4 linked regions of the Homo sapiens genome follow. The protein of the gene in region 3 purifies or fractionates together with the protein of the main gene of each other region. This does not show direct contact. Each region holds a gene or a part of one and is shown on either strand. Other genes may lie near its edges.

Region 1 (3,580 bases), on a different chromosome or scaffold from region 3:
TATATATAGTTAGTATGAGTGGTTGCAGATTCACAAATTCTTCTCATACAGTGTATGTTGTTACAAATAAGTTATGAAAAATTTAGGCCAGGTGAGGTGACTCACGCTTGTAATCCCAGCACTTTGAGAGGCTGAGGTGGGTGGATCACCTGAGGTCAGGAGCTTGAGACCAGCCTGGCCAACATGGTGAAACCCTGTATCTACTAAAAATAGAAAAGAATTAGTGGGGCTTAGTGGTGCGAGCCTATAGTCCCAGCTTCTCGGGTGTCTGAGGCAGGAGAATCGCTTGAACACAGGAGTCAGAGGGTGCAGTGAGCCGAGATTGTGCCATTGCACTCCAGCCTGGGCAACAGAGCGACACTCTGTCTCAAAAAAAAAAAAAATTATGAAAAATTTATTTGAGGAATCAAATAAAATGTTAATCTCATTGTGTGCTTTATGAAGTTTGAATGCTGTTTTGTCATCTGTTCTGCTTTTAATTAGTATAACCTGAATTTGGTGACATGCTGGTTTTTTTAAATTTTTTATTTAGGCAGCTAATACTTGATGGTCAATGGGATGAAGTTCTTCAGTTCATTCAGCCTCTAGAATGTATGGAAAAATTTGACAAAAAAAGGTAAGATTTTATCTAAAGTTTTTAGTGTCTCATCATTGGTAGAAGCTTAGCAAAACAATGAACAAAAATTTTCATTTTCATTTTTCTTTCTCCACTGGCCTTGAACAGAGAGTAAACAAATTGATCTCTCTCTGTCACCCAAGCTGGAGTGTGGTGGCATGATCACAGCTCACTGCAGCCTTGGTCTCCTGGGCTCAAGCAATCCTCCCACTTCAGCCTCTCAAGTAGCTGGGACTATACAGGCGTGTACCATCAGCCTAGCTAATTTTGTATTTTTTTTAGAGTTAGGGTTTCACCATGTTGCCCAGGCTTCCCTTGTGTTCATTTGGATTATTTTAAGTTGATTTAATGTTCACTGACCCTTTCTTTTGCTATTAGCAATCTGTTGATAAATTGTGAATTTTTAAAAACAGGTTCTTGTTCTACCACCAGGCTGATGTGCAGTGGCATGTATGTGGCACTGCAGCTTCAAATTCAACAGTGAATTTTTCATTTTGAATATTGTGCTTTTCATTTTCAAATTCGTATAATTTTTTTGTAAGATTTTTCCATCTGTTCATTCATTATGATTATATTTTTCTTTAGGTCCTTCAACATACTGAGAGTAGCTGCTTGTTTGCTAGTGTAGTCCTTGTTTGGTAATTTGGACTTGTGCTTGCTTATATCAGGCTCAGTTTCTAATGATTGCCTTTTCTCCTAACTGGGAGTCACTTTTTGTTTTTTTTTTTAACTATATCTAATTATTTTGTAAATGTAATCTGCACATTTCAGCTTCACTCTTGAGGCTCTGAATTCTGTTCTCTTCCTACATAAAAAGTTTGATTTTCATACAGGCAGTTATTTAACTTAGGTAGCCTCAAAATGCAAACTCTTTCTCCCCTCTTGTGGATACCAGAGATTTGTCCCGAAATCTCTGCTCAGTTCTTTGGCCTTTCATCTGTTTTCTCCAGGCTCCTTGGAGTCTCCCTTGCATCTTCACAGTTTAGGGGATAGCCAGGGATATGGGTACCTAAGTTTATACAGTAGATTTTGGTATGTTTCCTACTGTGACGTCGTCCTTTTTTTGGATCTTCCTCTCATTTTTTAGCTGCTCTGGCAGTACCAAACTTTTTTTTTGAGACAGGGTCTCATTCTGTTGCCCAGGCTGGAGTGCAGTGGTGTGAACACAGCTCACTGTAGCCTTACCTCCTGGGCTCAAGTGATTTGCCTGCTTCAGACTCCTGTGTGGCTGGGACTGCAGGCGTGTGCCACCCCGCTAGGCTAATTTTTAAATTTTTTGTAGAGACCAGGTCTGACTTTGTTGCCCAGGCTGGTCTCGAACTTCTGGGCTCAAATAATCCTCTTGCCTTGGCCTCTCAAAGTGCTAGGATTACAAGTATGAGCCACTTTGTTCAGTCAGTACCAGACTTTTCAAGCTACAGCCTTCTGTTTGAGTTCTAGCTCACACTGTGTGAACTGGGGAGTGCCCTCAGCTGGAAAGCCTTATGCTGTTGAATATAACCCCTTAAATTTCTGGGTTTTTTTTTTTTTTTTTTGAGATGGAGTCTCACTCTGTCACCCAGGCTGGAATGCAGTGGTGCGATCTTGGCTCACTGCAACCTCTGCTTCCCAGGTTCAAGCGATTCTCCTGCCTCAGCCTCCCGAGCAGCTGGGACTACAGGCATGCACCACTGTGCCTAGCTAATTTTTGTATTGTTAGAAATGGGGTTTCACCATGTTGGTCAGGCTGGTCTCGAGCTCCTGACCTCGTGATCCACCCACCTTGGCCTCCCAAAGTGCTGGGATTACAGGCTTGAGCCAACGCACCTGGCAAATTTCTCTTTTTTTAAGGATTGACTTCCCTCTAGTTGTGCCAGCTTTTCAAATGCATTCAAAATAGTCATTTTTTGAGGCCAGGCGTGGTGGCTCACGCCTGTAATCCCAGCACTTTGGGAGGCCGAGGCAGGCGGATCACTTGAGGTCAGGAGTTGGAGACCAGCCTGGCCAACATGGCGAAATCCTGTCTCTACTGAAAATACAAAAAAAAATTGGCTGGATGTGGTGGCACATGCCTGTAATCCCAGCTACTTGGGAGGCTGAGGTAGGAGAATCACTTGAAACTGGGAGGCAGGGGTTGCAGTGAGCCGAGATCGTGCCACTGCACTCCAGCCTGGGCGACAGAGCAGGACTCTGTCTCAATCAGTCAATCAATAAACAAACAAATAAATAAAATCACCTTTTTTTGGTATTTTATGTAAGATTTATTGTTGTTATATGCAGAAATGTTAGCCAGATATAAGTTACTCTATCACTATCAGAAGTTGAACCTGTTGTTATTTTTTGATTTGCTATTCAGACCATGCTGCTTGATATTTCTTTGCGTTTGTACATTCTTTACTTACCTGGAATATTAATCCCTTCACCATCTCCTGCCTTTACCTGGTACACTTCTGATTGTCTTCTGAGAGTCAGTTGTTATGTCTTTTTTTTGTTAACTTTCCACCTCTTTTGTACAATTGGTTTCATACTTTTTTGAGGCCTTGCTGAACTCTGAATATTTCATATAATTTATTAGGTGACCCTCTTTTTGAAGGCAGGGATTTTGTTTTATTGGACACAATTTGCTACTACAACAGTGGCTGAAAGAATGACTGAAGGTTCATTATTTTTTTCTTTCCAGACTTGGAAACACTTTTTCTATAAATTGCTTCAGGCAATAAAGCTTTTGATTCTTAGACAGGTTAGGTAGACTCTTTGCTATCCCTTCCCCTCTGAAAAACTCTTGTTAAAAAGCTTTAAATTGGGACCAGGTGCAGTGGCTCATACTTGTAATCCAAGCACTTTGGGAGGCTGAGGCAGGAGAATTGCTTGAAGCCAGGAATTTGAGATCAGTCTGAGCAACAAAGTGAGACCCGGTCTCTACAAAACAATTTTAAAAATTGGCCGGGTGCTGTGGCACACAGTTGTAGTCCTAGCTGCTTGGGA
Region 2 (3,580 bases), on a different chromosome or scaffold from region 3:
GGAGCCTTTTATTTTTTTTTTTAACATGTTTCAGCAGACAGTTAAAATAAGGCTCACCCATAGGAATGCTGCATGCAGATGTGTATGCGAGTAGGAGAAAGGTCAAGAAGGACTTACACACAGCTTTGGGTTCTGTACGTAGCGAATCTGTCATGTACTAGTTCCAGGTACCTGTTTACCAGATGAAAAGATCCCATTGTTGTCTTAATCTAAATTGCTGAGTTCTTATTGCTACTTTAAAATTGTTCACTGCCAATCTGTAGAGAAGTAGTGGAAGTGAATGATGTGTACTGGATTTCCTTTTATTTCTCCTGATATTCAGGAGCAGGCAGGAAGAGGGAAAAGGAGAGCTTGAGCTTTCCATAGACTGGCAACTGAGGTCATTACTGATTAAGACTTGTGCATATTAAATAAAACATTGTCACATTTCCTTTTCAGGAGCCAACAGTTGGAAGTCAGATTCAGAGAGTAGTGAGCATGGCTGCCTTGGCCATGGTGTGTGAGGCCATAGACCAGAAGCCTGAGCTGCAGCTGGACTCTCTCCATGCTGGGCCCCTGGAAAGCTTCCTTTCCTCTCTTCAGCTCAATCAGACGCTGCAGAAGCCCCACGCAGAGGAGCAGAGCAGTTATGCTCACCCCTTGGAGTGCAGCAGGTACAGGGAAGGTTAAGGCTTAAAAATCCATTTCTGTTGTTGTCACCGTGAGTTCATGATTGCCCAACATTGCTTATAAAGTTATAGAATTTTGGGGCTGAAGCTCCATTCAGGATGAAAGTGTGGTATAACATTATTCATCTCTGTTACTGGAGACTTGCTGACTTTTCTGCATCTAGTTTTCACTGAATCATTTCAGATGAGCAAAAGTACCTACTTTCAGAGAAGTTAGAAAATTAAGGTTTATGTGGTTTCCTTAGTTTTTGGTAGATAGGCTGTTTGATAATGACCATTTATATCTGTACACTGCCCCCCCCCCCCCACCTTTAGAAAGGATAGTGTGCTACGTGCAAAAGACGTGGAGGCAAATTGGGGAAGTATGGCCTAGTAACTTTATTTTTTATTTCAGTGTTTTGGAAGAATCGTCATCTTCCCAAGGATGGGGAAAAATAGTTGCACAATATATTCATGATCAATGGGTGTGCCTCTCTTTCCTGTTGAAAAAATATCACACCCTTATACCAACCACAGGGAGTGAAATTCTGGAACCGTTTCTACCTGCCGTTCAGATGCCAATAAGGACTTTGCAGTCTGCACTAGAAGCCCTCACAGTTCTTTCTTCTGATCAAGTTTTACCAGTGTTCCATTGCTTGAAAGTGTTGGTTCCCAAGGTAAGATAGAGTGAAACATGAATTGAACAGTAACTATAGGAGTGGCGATCAAGTTTTTGAAATAAGTATGTATTTTTTTTTTTCCTACCAGCTTCTGACTTCCTCTGAATCACTCTGCATAGAGTCTTTTGACATGGCGTGGAAAATTATATCTTCTTTAAGCAACACTCAGCTGATATTCTGGGCTAATTTAAAAGCTTTTGTTCAGTTTGTTTTTGATAACAAAGTTCTTACCATTGCTGCCAAAATCAAGGGCCAGGCATATTTCAAAATAAAAGAGGTAACTAACTTTCTTTTCTTTTTGCTTTTCTTTTCATGTGTGTGAGCTTCAGCACATGAGGAACATGAGAGTTGTATTCACAATTAGATTTTTGGCTCTTTATTCCTTCAGTCAAAAATATTTTTGAACCTTCTTAAATATCAAGAGTAAGAATGAGAAAATCTGACAGATGTAGAAGAGAAGGTACAAAACGGTAGCCTGGAGCCACATCTGCCTCAGAAACGGTTTGTTTGGTTCATACAGTGTTTAAAATTTTGATTACCTGGCAACTTTTAATTGTTGGGAAATCTGGCCAGGCGGGGTGGCTCATGCCTGTGATCCCACCACTTTGAGAGGCTGAGGCGGGCGGATCACGTGAGGTCAGGAGCTCGAGACAAGCCTGGCCAACGTGGCAAAACCCCGTCTTTACTAAAAATACAAAAATTAGCCAGGTGTGGTGGCGCACGCCTGTAATCCCAGCTACTCAGGAGGCTGAGGCAGGAGAATTGCTTGAACCCAGGAGGCGGTGGTTGCAGTGAGCTGACATCACGCCACTGCACTCCAGCCTGGGCAACAGAGCAAGACTCCATCTCAAAAAAAAAAAAAGTTGGGAAATCTGTATGAAAAACTGGATTTCTTGGAAATGAGGTAATCTAGCAACACTGGTCATTCTTCCATGACAATGTAATTGATCGCTCGGTTGAGTAGGAGTTGGCATGCTCTTTCCACAATCAGTCTCATTTCACCCGGATACTTGAAGGCAAATGTCAGGCGCCATTTGTCATTGCACTTTGGCTGAGGTTTTTTTTTGTGTGTGTAGAGAAATATTTTTCTGACTGTAACCCTTATCAAAAGGTCTTGCTGGTTTCTGGAGGTATTTTCATTTGCAGCTACTGAGATAGGAACATACCAAGGTGGAGTTCCAGTGTACCTCCTGATCCCCAGGGGAACAGGGAGAGTCAGATTCCGTTATTTCTCTGCAGCCCTGTGCTGCCTTTCTTGGTCCTTTTCTGCCCCACAGTACATAGTTAGAGACGCTGGTCTTTGCTGCCTCAGCCAAAGGAAGGCCACTGGCAAAATGCAAACAAAGGAAGCTGAATGTGTGTGGGGTGAGGTGTTTTTCCCCTTTGATTCTACTGCTTTGGCAGTTGTTTCTCTTGAAGAGTCCTGGATGAATATCACTATCAGTAAAATTTTATTTATTTTTATTATCAAGAGATGAAATAGCATTCTCTGATTATTGATCATCTCGCAAAGTTATTCTAACAGTAATGAATTTAACAGTTTTTAGACTGTTCATGATTATGTTGAAACTAAGTAACAGTTTTTAGCAGCACTGATTTTTTAAAAACTAAATCAAGGATAAAATGACGGTTGTATTTTATTCCAGATTATGTACAAGATAATTGAAATGTCTGCTATAAAGACTGGAGTCTTCAATACACTGATAAGTTACTGCTGTCAGTCTTGGATAGTGTCTGCTTCAAATGTGTCCCAAGGATCTTTATCAAGTGCTAAAAATTATAGCGAACTTATCCTTGAGGCTTGTATATTTGGAACTGTGTTTAGGCGTGATCAAAGGTAAAAGATGCTATTATTTCAACTGGTCATAACTTGTATTAAGTGCCTACTTGGGTATAGAATTATGTCTTTGTTTTGAGGCTTTCAATTAAAAGAATATAAATTATTAGTTAACTTTAACCTTGGGGATTTAATTTTTTTTCTATTTAAAACCTGTTGTTCTTTATCAAATGTTTTTTATGGAAAGACTTGTTCAGGATGTACAGACCTTCATAGAAAACCTTGGACATGACTGTGCGGCAAATATTGTTATGGAAAAGTAAGTATGGTAGATTTTCTCTGTCTTCACATAAATGAGATACTAAAAATTTAACATCATATGACAAACATTCTGTATTTGCTAAATTTAATAAGTGACATCTAATATATTAATAAGATGGGATGAGCCTTTAAAAGTATGTTAGAAATTATAGTCC
Region 3 (4,062 bases):
TTACAAATGTGAGCCACCATGCCTCACCTGTGTGTTGTTTTTATTTGTTTTTATCTGCTCATCTCAAAAAAGAAAGTAAAATTTCCAACCAATAAATTCATCCCACCCAAATCCCCTACTTCCTTAAGCTGTGCCCCCAAAACACCGAGCAGAATTGCAAATCCCATAATAAGTGCTTTCTGGCCGGGCGTGGTGGCTCACGCCTATAATCCCAGCACTTCGGGAGACTGAAGCGAGCGGATCACCCGAGGTCGGCAATTCGAAACCAGCCTGACCAACATGGAAAAACCCCATCTCTACTAAAAATACAAAATTAGCTGGGTGTGGTGGCACATGCCTATAATCCCAGCTACTCGGGAGCCTGAGGCAGGAGAATCACTTGAAGCCGGAGGTTGCGATGAGCTGAGATCGTGCCACTGCACCCCAGCCTGGGCAACAAGAGCGAAACTCCATCTCAAATAAATAAATAAATAAATAAATAGCGAAAAAAAGTTCTTTCTAACACCTCCCTACTGAGACCGCCATAGTGCCCTATGACATGTATGAGCTCTCTCTCCCTCTCTCTTTCTTTCTCTCTCTCTCTCTGATGAATAATAAGCTTGAATGTGTTCAATCACAGGTACATTCCTGGTGGTCTTTGACTGGGGAAGGAGGGGTGACCGGCCCCTTTAAAGGGAGATCTGTGAGCCCTAGAATAATATCAAGAGGTGCAGTGATTCAGGGAAGTGGGTCCATTCTGTGTGGGGTGTGTAGAAGGTAGAGGGACAGAAAAACTTTAGAGGATGATAATAATAATGGACACCAGCAGCCTATTTAATCAAATCCTCAATACTGACACTGCTTTCTGAACTGGCTACCATCATTAGTCCCCTTTTGCAGATGACAAAACCTAAGTCCTAGCCAGGCATGGTGGCACACACCTGTGGACCCACCCACTTGGGAGGCTGAGGCGAGAGGATCGCTTGAGCCCAGGACTTCAAGTCCAGCCTGGGCAACATAGCGAGAGCTTACCTCAAAAACAAAACCAACCGAACAAAACCCCAGAGGCTCCAAAAAGTCAATTACTTGCCTGGGTTCCTGGAGCTCTAAGGAGGCAGTATTCGCACCAAGCCTGCCTGCTAATTTTCCTCCCGGCTGCCCCTAGAGGTGCTGAGTGGTCATTGTGACAGTATCATTACACAAAGGAAGCTCTTGGGGTCACAATGCGCAGGGCTGGACCACCCTTGGATGCAGCCTGGGAAGGAACATGAGGATCCTCTGAGAGACCAGGGACAGAGGGAGACCCAAAGATCTGGTCTGTAGCTAAGTGAATTTTCTAAAACTCATTGATTCACACGCCATCCCTTGAGGTAGGTGCACTGTCCTCGTCCCTGATGTACAGAGGTGAAAACTGAGGCTCATGGGAGCTTAATGACTTATTCCAAGATTACCTGGCTAGTAGTCTCAGTTGTTGGATTCTCTGATGACCCATTTTGGAGGTCATATTCAACTCTCAACTATTGCAGGGGGCAAATGATTCAAAAAGCAGCAAACTCAGCCAGGCGCGGTGGCTCATGCCTGTAATCCCAGCATTTTGGGAGGCCGAGGAGGGTGGATCACCTGAGGCTAGGAGTTCGAGACCAGGCTGGCCAACATGGCGAAACCCCGTCTCTACTAAAAATACAAAAATTGGCCGGGCGTGGTGGCGGACACCTACAGTCCCAGCTACTCTGGAGGCTGAGGTGGGAGAATCGCTTGAATCCAGGAGGAAGAGGTTGCAGTGAGCTGAGAAAAAAAAAAAAGCAACAAACTTACACACTGAAAAACTGTGGTTTCATTAAAACACACACACACACATACACACACACACACACACACACACACACACCCTTCATCCATGTTTTCTTTCTATTTTTGTGATGGGGTTTCGCTCTGTCACCCAGGCTGGAGTGCGGTAGCGTGGTCTCGGATCACTGCAACCTCTGCCACCCAGGTTCAAGCGGTTCTCCCGCCTCAGCCTTCTGAGTAGCTGGGATGACAGGTGCATACTACCATGCCCAGCTAATTTTTGTATTTTTTTCTTTTTTTTTTTTTTTTTTTTGAGACAGAGTTTCGCTCTTGTTGCCCAGGCTGGAGTGCAATGGCGCAATCTTGGCTCACCACGACTTCTGCCTCCTGGGTTCAAGCTATTCTCCTGCCTCAGCCTCTGGAGTAGCTGGGATTACAGGCATGCGCCACCACGCCTGACTAATTTTGTATTTTTAGTAGAGATGGGGTTTCTCCATGTTGGTCAGGCTGGTCTTGAACTCCGACCTCAGGAGATCTGCCCACCTCGGCCTCCCAAAGTGCTGGGATTATAGGCCTGAGCCACTGCACCCGTCTGATCCATGTTTTCTAAATAGGTAGAGGTAAGCAGGTTTTGTGGGTTGAAGTGATCTGGGAGGTCTTCCTGCAAGAGGTGAGCCTGAGAACTTGGAATGCTGGTCTCCAAGGGAGACAGAGAGGAGAGCATGGGAGACACTTGTGATCTAAGCAAAGGCAAGAAAGTCCCAGGTGACTGAGCAGAGGCGGAGGGTCAGGGGAGGCTTGGAGTCTGAAGCTGAAGGTCAGAGGAGAGAGCTAACTCTCAGAAGGTGTGAAGACAGGAAGAGATTGAGAATAGGCAGGACCTAGGACAACTGCAGAGCAGGGGAAAACCAGTAAGAAAGTGCGTGGCAGGCCGGGCACAGTGGCTCACACCTGTCATCCCAGCACTTTGGGAGGCCAAGGCAGACAGATCACTTGAGGTCAGGAGTTCGAGACCAGCCTGACCAATGTGGTGAAACCCCGTCTCTACCAAAAATACAAAACTTAGACGGGCATGGTGGCAGGTACCTGTTATCCCAGCTACTTGGGAGGCTGAGGCAGGAGAGTCAGTTGAATCCAGGAGGTGGAGGTTGCAGTGAGCTGAGATCGTGCCACTGTACTCCAGCCTGGGGGACAGAGTGAGACTCTGTCACAAAAAGAAAAGGAAAGAAAGAAAGAGAGAGAAGGTAGGGAAGTGAAAGGAGCGGAGGGGAGGGGGGAGGGGCGGGGGAGGGGGAGAGAAGGGAGAAAAAGTGTGGCAGAAACGGAGATGGCCAGTGGCTGGGGTGCAGGGCTGGAGTTAGGCAGAGGAACAAAAATGGGTCCCCCAGAGGGGAAGAAGGAGAAAACCGTGGCCTTGACAACTGACTGAGGGTGAGAAGACGCGGTTCTTGTATCAGACATACAGTAGAATGCAGTGGTTAATTCTCCAAGTTCTAGAATCAGAGTCGCCCTGGGTTCAAATCTCAAGCAAATGACCACCTCCCTGAGCCTCAATGTCTTTTGTGAAGCAGTGGTTAAAACCTACCCTTGGCCAGGCATGGTGGCTAACACCTGTAATCCCAGCACTTTGGGAGGCTGAGGCAGAAGGGTTGCTTGAGCCCAGGAGTTTGAGACCAGCCTGAGCAACATAGCCAGACCCCTGTCTCTAAAAAAAAAAATAGAAAGAATTAGCCATGCATGGTGGTGCACACCTATAGTCCCAGATGCTCAGAAGACTGAGGTGAGAGGACCGTTTGAGCCCAAGAGGTTGAGCCCACCACACTTGTCTAATTTGTGTGTGTGTGTGTGTGTGTGTGTGTGTGTGTGGAGACGGGGTCCCACTATATTGCCCAGGCTGGTCCTGAACTCCCGGGCTCAAGCAGTCCTCTTGCTCTGACCTCTCACTGTGCCTGGATACAGGTGTGAGTCACAGTACCCAGCTATTACCTTCTAACCTACTCTTCAATTTTTGTTGTTATATTTTTTATTATTGTCTGTCATCTCCCGCCCCATTATCAATTCCACAAAGGCAGGGATCTAGGTCTATTTTGTGAACTAATGTTAGTTCCCCACCCCTGCTGGCCTCCAGGCCTAGAGTAGGGACAGAAATCATTTATGTGGTGCCTACTGTGTGCCAGGCCTACAGTAGGCACCACATGAAAGATTTTTTTTTATGTTTTGAGACGGAGTCTCGCTCTGTCGTCCAGGCTGGAGTGCAATGGCACAATCTCGGCTCACTGCAACCTCTGCCTCCCG
Region 4 (4,008 bases), on a different chromosome or scaffold from region 3:
CCATTTCATTTTGCCCTAAGAGGAAACCAGACTGCCAAAAGTTGCTCCAGCTCCCTTTAGTAAGCAGCACATTTTTTAAAAGGTGGGGGAGGGTTGAGTAAAGTAAATACTTAGGCTATTTGGCATCCATCTTAATAAAAAATAAAAGTAATTCACAAAAGTTAACCTGTGCTCAATGCTCTAAGCATTTAGAATGTGGAAATTCCTAAGGATTCTATTTTTTTTCATAGAATATATGTTGTATTTTGCTTTTTTTGTAGTTTGAAATTATCTTTGGTAATGCCTGGATAAGGTTATAACAATAGTCTCCCCAGTAGTATTGTGAATGCACCTGCTTGCCAATTCAAATAATTTTGAACAAATATTTAAACAGAAGGAGTCAGAGAAAAATGCACTATTTGAACAGCTAAGGGAGGGTCCACTTCATTAACAAAATGCAACAAGTATTCACAGTATAAATCAACTCATAGTAAATTTGCAAAAGCATCTTCAAGGATAATATTCCAAGGAGAAAATAGTCTCTTAATTTTACCAAACATTATTTTTACACTTTAATCATTAAAAATAGGCTTAAATGCAATATGAATGGTAAAACTAGAGACTGGATGATATGAACTCATACCACAACATATACAAAAAATAGTTTTAACAATGACTATTGAAGCTGACAGTCGCTTGACTAGAATTGAGAAGAGGCCACGGGTGACTGCCTCAGAACAGACTCAATTAGAGCAGCTGATTAGGAAGTATGGGATTCATACAGGAGTGGAGCAGCAGGCTCATAAAAACACCGCGGGGCATTCAAAACTTACCTGAGTAATGGTGGTTTTAACTGTGCCAATTTGTTTGGGATTGGGAAATGCTATTATGACCTATTTCTCTTCTCCAACATGAGGAGTCTCCCTACCATTCTGTGACTGAATACCTAGGGTTAGGTTACCTGAAGGATCTGTTATTAATCTCCAGCTGTAAGGAAATATTCCATAAGGATTCCCAGAGAATAAATGATTCCAAAATAGTTGCTCAGTTTGTGTGTGTTTTAAAAAGTTGGGTAAGACCACTTAAAATTTTTTTCTAAGAGGATAGATCTTAAGCATACAATAGTGTTAACTATAGGTGTGTACTTATCCCCATGATACTTATACACCTATGAAACCACCAATAGTTAGGGTGGAGTGGTATGCACAGCTTTTTACATGTCAATTATACCTCAAAAAATAAAGGTTATCTAAATGGGGGTAGGAGAATGTAGGGAGACTGAATTTACTCTGAACTACAGTTATAGTTGAAGTCAACTCAAAACCTCTCCAAATTTCTAAAAATGCCTCACACACTGAAGTTAATATTTCAGAAAACTAATAAATGTCTGTGCATGTAGGTATGCCTTGAGCAGACTACAATCTCTCTGGATCTCTAGGTCTTGTCACAAACTGAGGGAACTGTTACCGATTTCTACAGAACCTTCCAGGTTCAGCATTCTATTAAAAAGATTTCCTAGAGTTTGTATTGTAAACATTTAACCACTTAGGACAATTTGAGTCATTACTCGTGTCTGGTACAGAACATCAGGCCCCTGGGGTCTTGTTTTGAAACTCAAGTTGGCCAGCCTTTCACCTGAAACAAACTTCTTACCTTTTGGGGGAGAATAAGCATTTTGTTCCCCAAAAAAGCATTTGGAAAGCATTTGTTATGAAGTGATCATGCACCAATCCTTTATCTTTCATCAGTAATAGTATATTTCATTAATCAGGCCTGCCCAGACCAGAAATTACTTACCCACAAACACTTTACAAAGCTGCATGCCTTCTCGGTGTTTGGATTTGATGTCCTGGTTGTATGACAATATAGGAAACGTATTAATTTAACTTTTTTATTCACTGAGGAAAATTTCTACCCCTCTTAAGTGAAGACTTCACTCTAGCTAAGAGAAGTACTCGGGCTCCACCTGTTTCGCCTAGCTACAACACTCATTCAGACCCTCGGCAAACCCAGCTCTAGCAATATCACGCCAGGCTAGGTGGACAGGAATGCACCAGTGCTGTTGGAAATTAAAGTTGATGGGAGTTGCATTCTAATCCGGCCAGAGCTGCGCCTGCCGGGTGCAACCGCGGCGCGGCCGGCGCTGTCGGTCTCTGTCTCACGGATGGTGAGCTGACAGCTCCTGCCAGCCCAGGCGGGGAGGAGGAGAAGAGGTGTCCGCTGCAGCCGCATACCCGGCGGGTGAAAGCACCGTCTTGTCCCCAAAGATTCCTCTGCCCTCAGAGACTAACAAAAATACGGTGTCCTGCGTTTCGCAGAAGGACGGGAGGCGTCCCAGAGCTCTCCCGGGAGAAAAACCCAGGGAGAAGTGGTGGTAGGAGGCGCCCGGTCCCGCAACTCACCTTCTGCTGCCTCCGGGCCATGTCGGTGGGCTGCTTGGCGTTGAAGGGGTACGCGATGCACCTCACGACGAAGACGTAGAGCTGCAGGCGGATCCTCCGCTCCTGCTCATCGTCCAGCTGCCGCTGGGGCTCGTCTCGCCCCTCGCTGAGCACAGAGGGGCTCGGGCTCACAGATCTGGCCGCGCCGCCGCCGCCCGCGCGCCCCGGCGCGTCCCGCCGCCCTTCCCGAGTCGGGGCTGGAGGAGCTCGCTGCGAGCTGCCGGCTGCCACCAGCACATCGCGGCTTTCCTCTTCCAGCCCCTCGTCCGACTCCTCTTCGCTGGAAGACGGGTCCAGCATGGTGCTCGGGGATCCCCGCCGCTCGGCCCGCGGTCCCCAAGCGCCTCACCCCCGGCGGCTGCGCCCGCGGGTCTGAGGGAGCCGCGGGGCTGGCTGCAGCGGCCGCAGAACGAAAGGAAAACTGGCCAGGGCTTTCCGGACACGTCGAGTTAGATTCAGGAGTGTTTCCTACCACCAGGGCGAAAGGGGCGGGCAGGAGCCGGGAGGAGGATTGGGAGGGGGGAGAGGGGGAGCCGCCGGGACTGAATAGGCGGAGTTAGCGTTGGGGGTGAGCTTGGGCGCCTCAGGAATTGCTCCGCCAGCCCCGGGCGCGCCGACCCAGCGGTTCCCCAGAGCCCGCCGGCAGAGGCGGAGCCGCCCGAGCGCCCGGACGCAGGTGGGGAACCTGTGGCGCCTACAACAAGCAACACGTGGAATTGAATGTTGAAGAGCCGCGCGGGGCCGCGGAGTGCGCGTGCGCGCGCCGCCGCTGCTGCCCGGGCCCGCCTGGAGCCCTAGCACACAGTTTGCAAAGGCGGGGAGCGGCCGAGCGCGATGGCCCGTGTAAGCGTCCACCGGGGCTGCTCCGACTACCCTCACCCTACCACCTGTGATCTTTTCTCCAGCAGGTGGAGGTGGAATGGGGAGCGGGGAGGGACTGTTCCCTAGCAAGAGGTTAGGGGGAGCGGCCGAGACATCTCCCCAACCCGAATCGGCTGCCTAGGATTGAACCCCAGCGCGGAAAAGCGGGACTGGAGCCCTTCACCACGAAGTATCTTTGCGACAAGACTTTGAAAAGTCTCACTCTGCTCTGCTGCCGTTTTGATACTCATGCTGAAGCCCAAATTATAAAAGTCGGAGTAATGAAAAAAAAAAGAAAACCAACGAGGCTTACTTTTTAAACTGTTCTAGTCCTGCAGACTCAAGGCAAGAGAGATTTTATATGTGCAAAATGATACTGATTCAGCTCAAACATATCTCGATTATTTTCTGGGTTGGGATGCAGTTGACTCAAAACAGGTTGTGTAGTGTGGACATTTATTCAACAAAGATTTGAGCGCCCTCCCGGTGTCCAGCACTGTTAGCCTTTTGCGGAGCCCGCGGTGACTAAGGCACATGACACTCAGTCGCTGGTGGTTCTGGCCTCAAGTCGGCGTCTTGTAGCTGCGCTGAAGCCTGCCTTATCTGCGCAGATTTCTCAGTCCTAGTGCTGGAACCACCTAGGAGTTTCTTATAGTAATTCTGTATCTTATGTCCTAAGTCCTGACAGAGGGGGAAATAGGCAAAACAATGCATTCAACACCAGGTG

The links.
Region 1: the proteins of SAXO5 (region 3) and WDR47 purify together in Homo sapiens (affinity purification with mass spectrometry; 2 studies listed by BioGRID and IntAct, with this or other methods). This does not show direct contact.
Region 2: the proteins of SAXO5 (region 3) and TARBP1 purify together in Homo sapiens (affinity purification with mass spectrometry; one large-scale study listed by BioGRID and IntAct). This does not show direct contact.
Region 4: the proteins of SAXO5 (region 3) and CADPS2 purify together in Homo sapiens (affinity purification with mass spectrometry; 2 studies listed by BioGRID and IntAct, with this or other methods). This does not show direct contact.

What each region holds. Positions count from the first base shown.
Region 1 is NC_000001.11:109,014,554-109,018,133, reverse strand, and holds part of WDR47 (WD repeat-containing protein 47), read left to right. Parts: intron 1-532; coding exon 533-616; intron 617-3,580.
Region 2 is NC_000001.11:234,427,160-234,430,739, reverse strand, and holds part of TARBP1 (tRNA (guanosine(18)-2'-O)-methyltransferase TARBP1), read left to right. Parts: intron 1-438; coding exon 439-653; intron 654-1,062; coding exon 1,063-1,324; intron 1,325-1,415; coding exon 1,416-1,604; intron 1,605-2,973; coding exon 2,974-3,164; intron 3,165-3,351; coding exon 3,352-3,423; intron 3,424-3,580.
Region 3 is NC_000019.10:7,496,334-7,500,395, forward strand, and holds the start of SAXO5 (stabilizer of axonemal microtubules 5), read left to right. Parts: upstream 1-1,214; 5' UTR 1,215-1,349; intron 1,350-4,062.
Region 4 is NC_000007.14:122,883,618-122,887,625, forward strand, and holds the start of CADPS2 (calcium-dependent secretion activator 2), read right to left. Parts: upstream 2,844-4,008; 5' UTR 2,721-2,843; coding exon 2,382-2,720; intron 1,829-2,381; exon of another isoform or gene 1,777-1,828; intron 1-1,776. UniProt on the Homo sapiens protein: Calcium-binding protein involved in exocytosis of vesicles filled with neurotransmitters and neuropeptides. Probably acts upstream of fusion in the biogenesis or maintenance of mature secretory vesicles.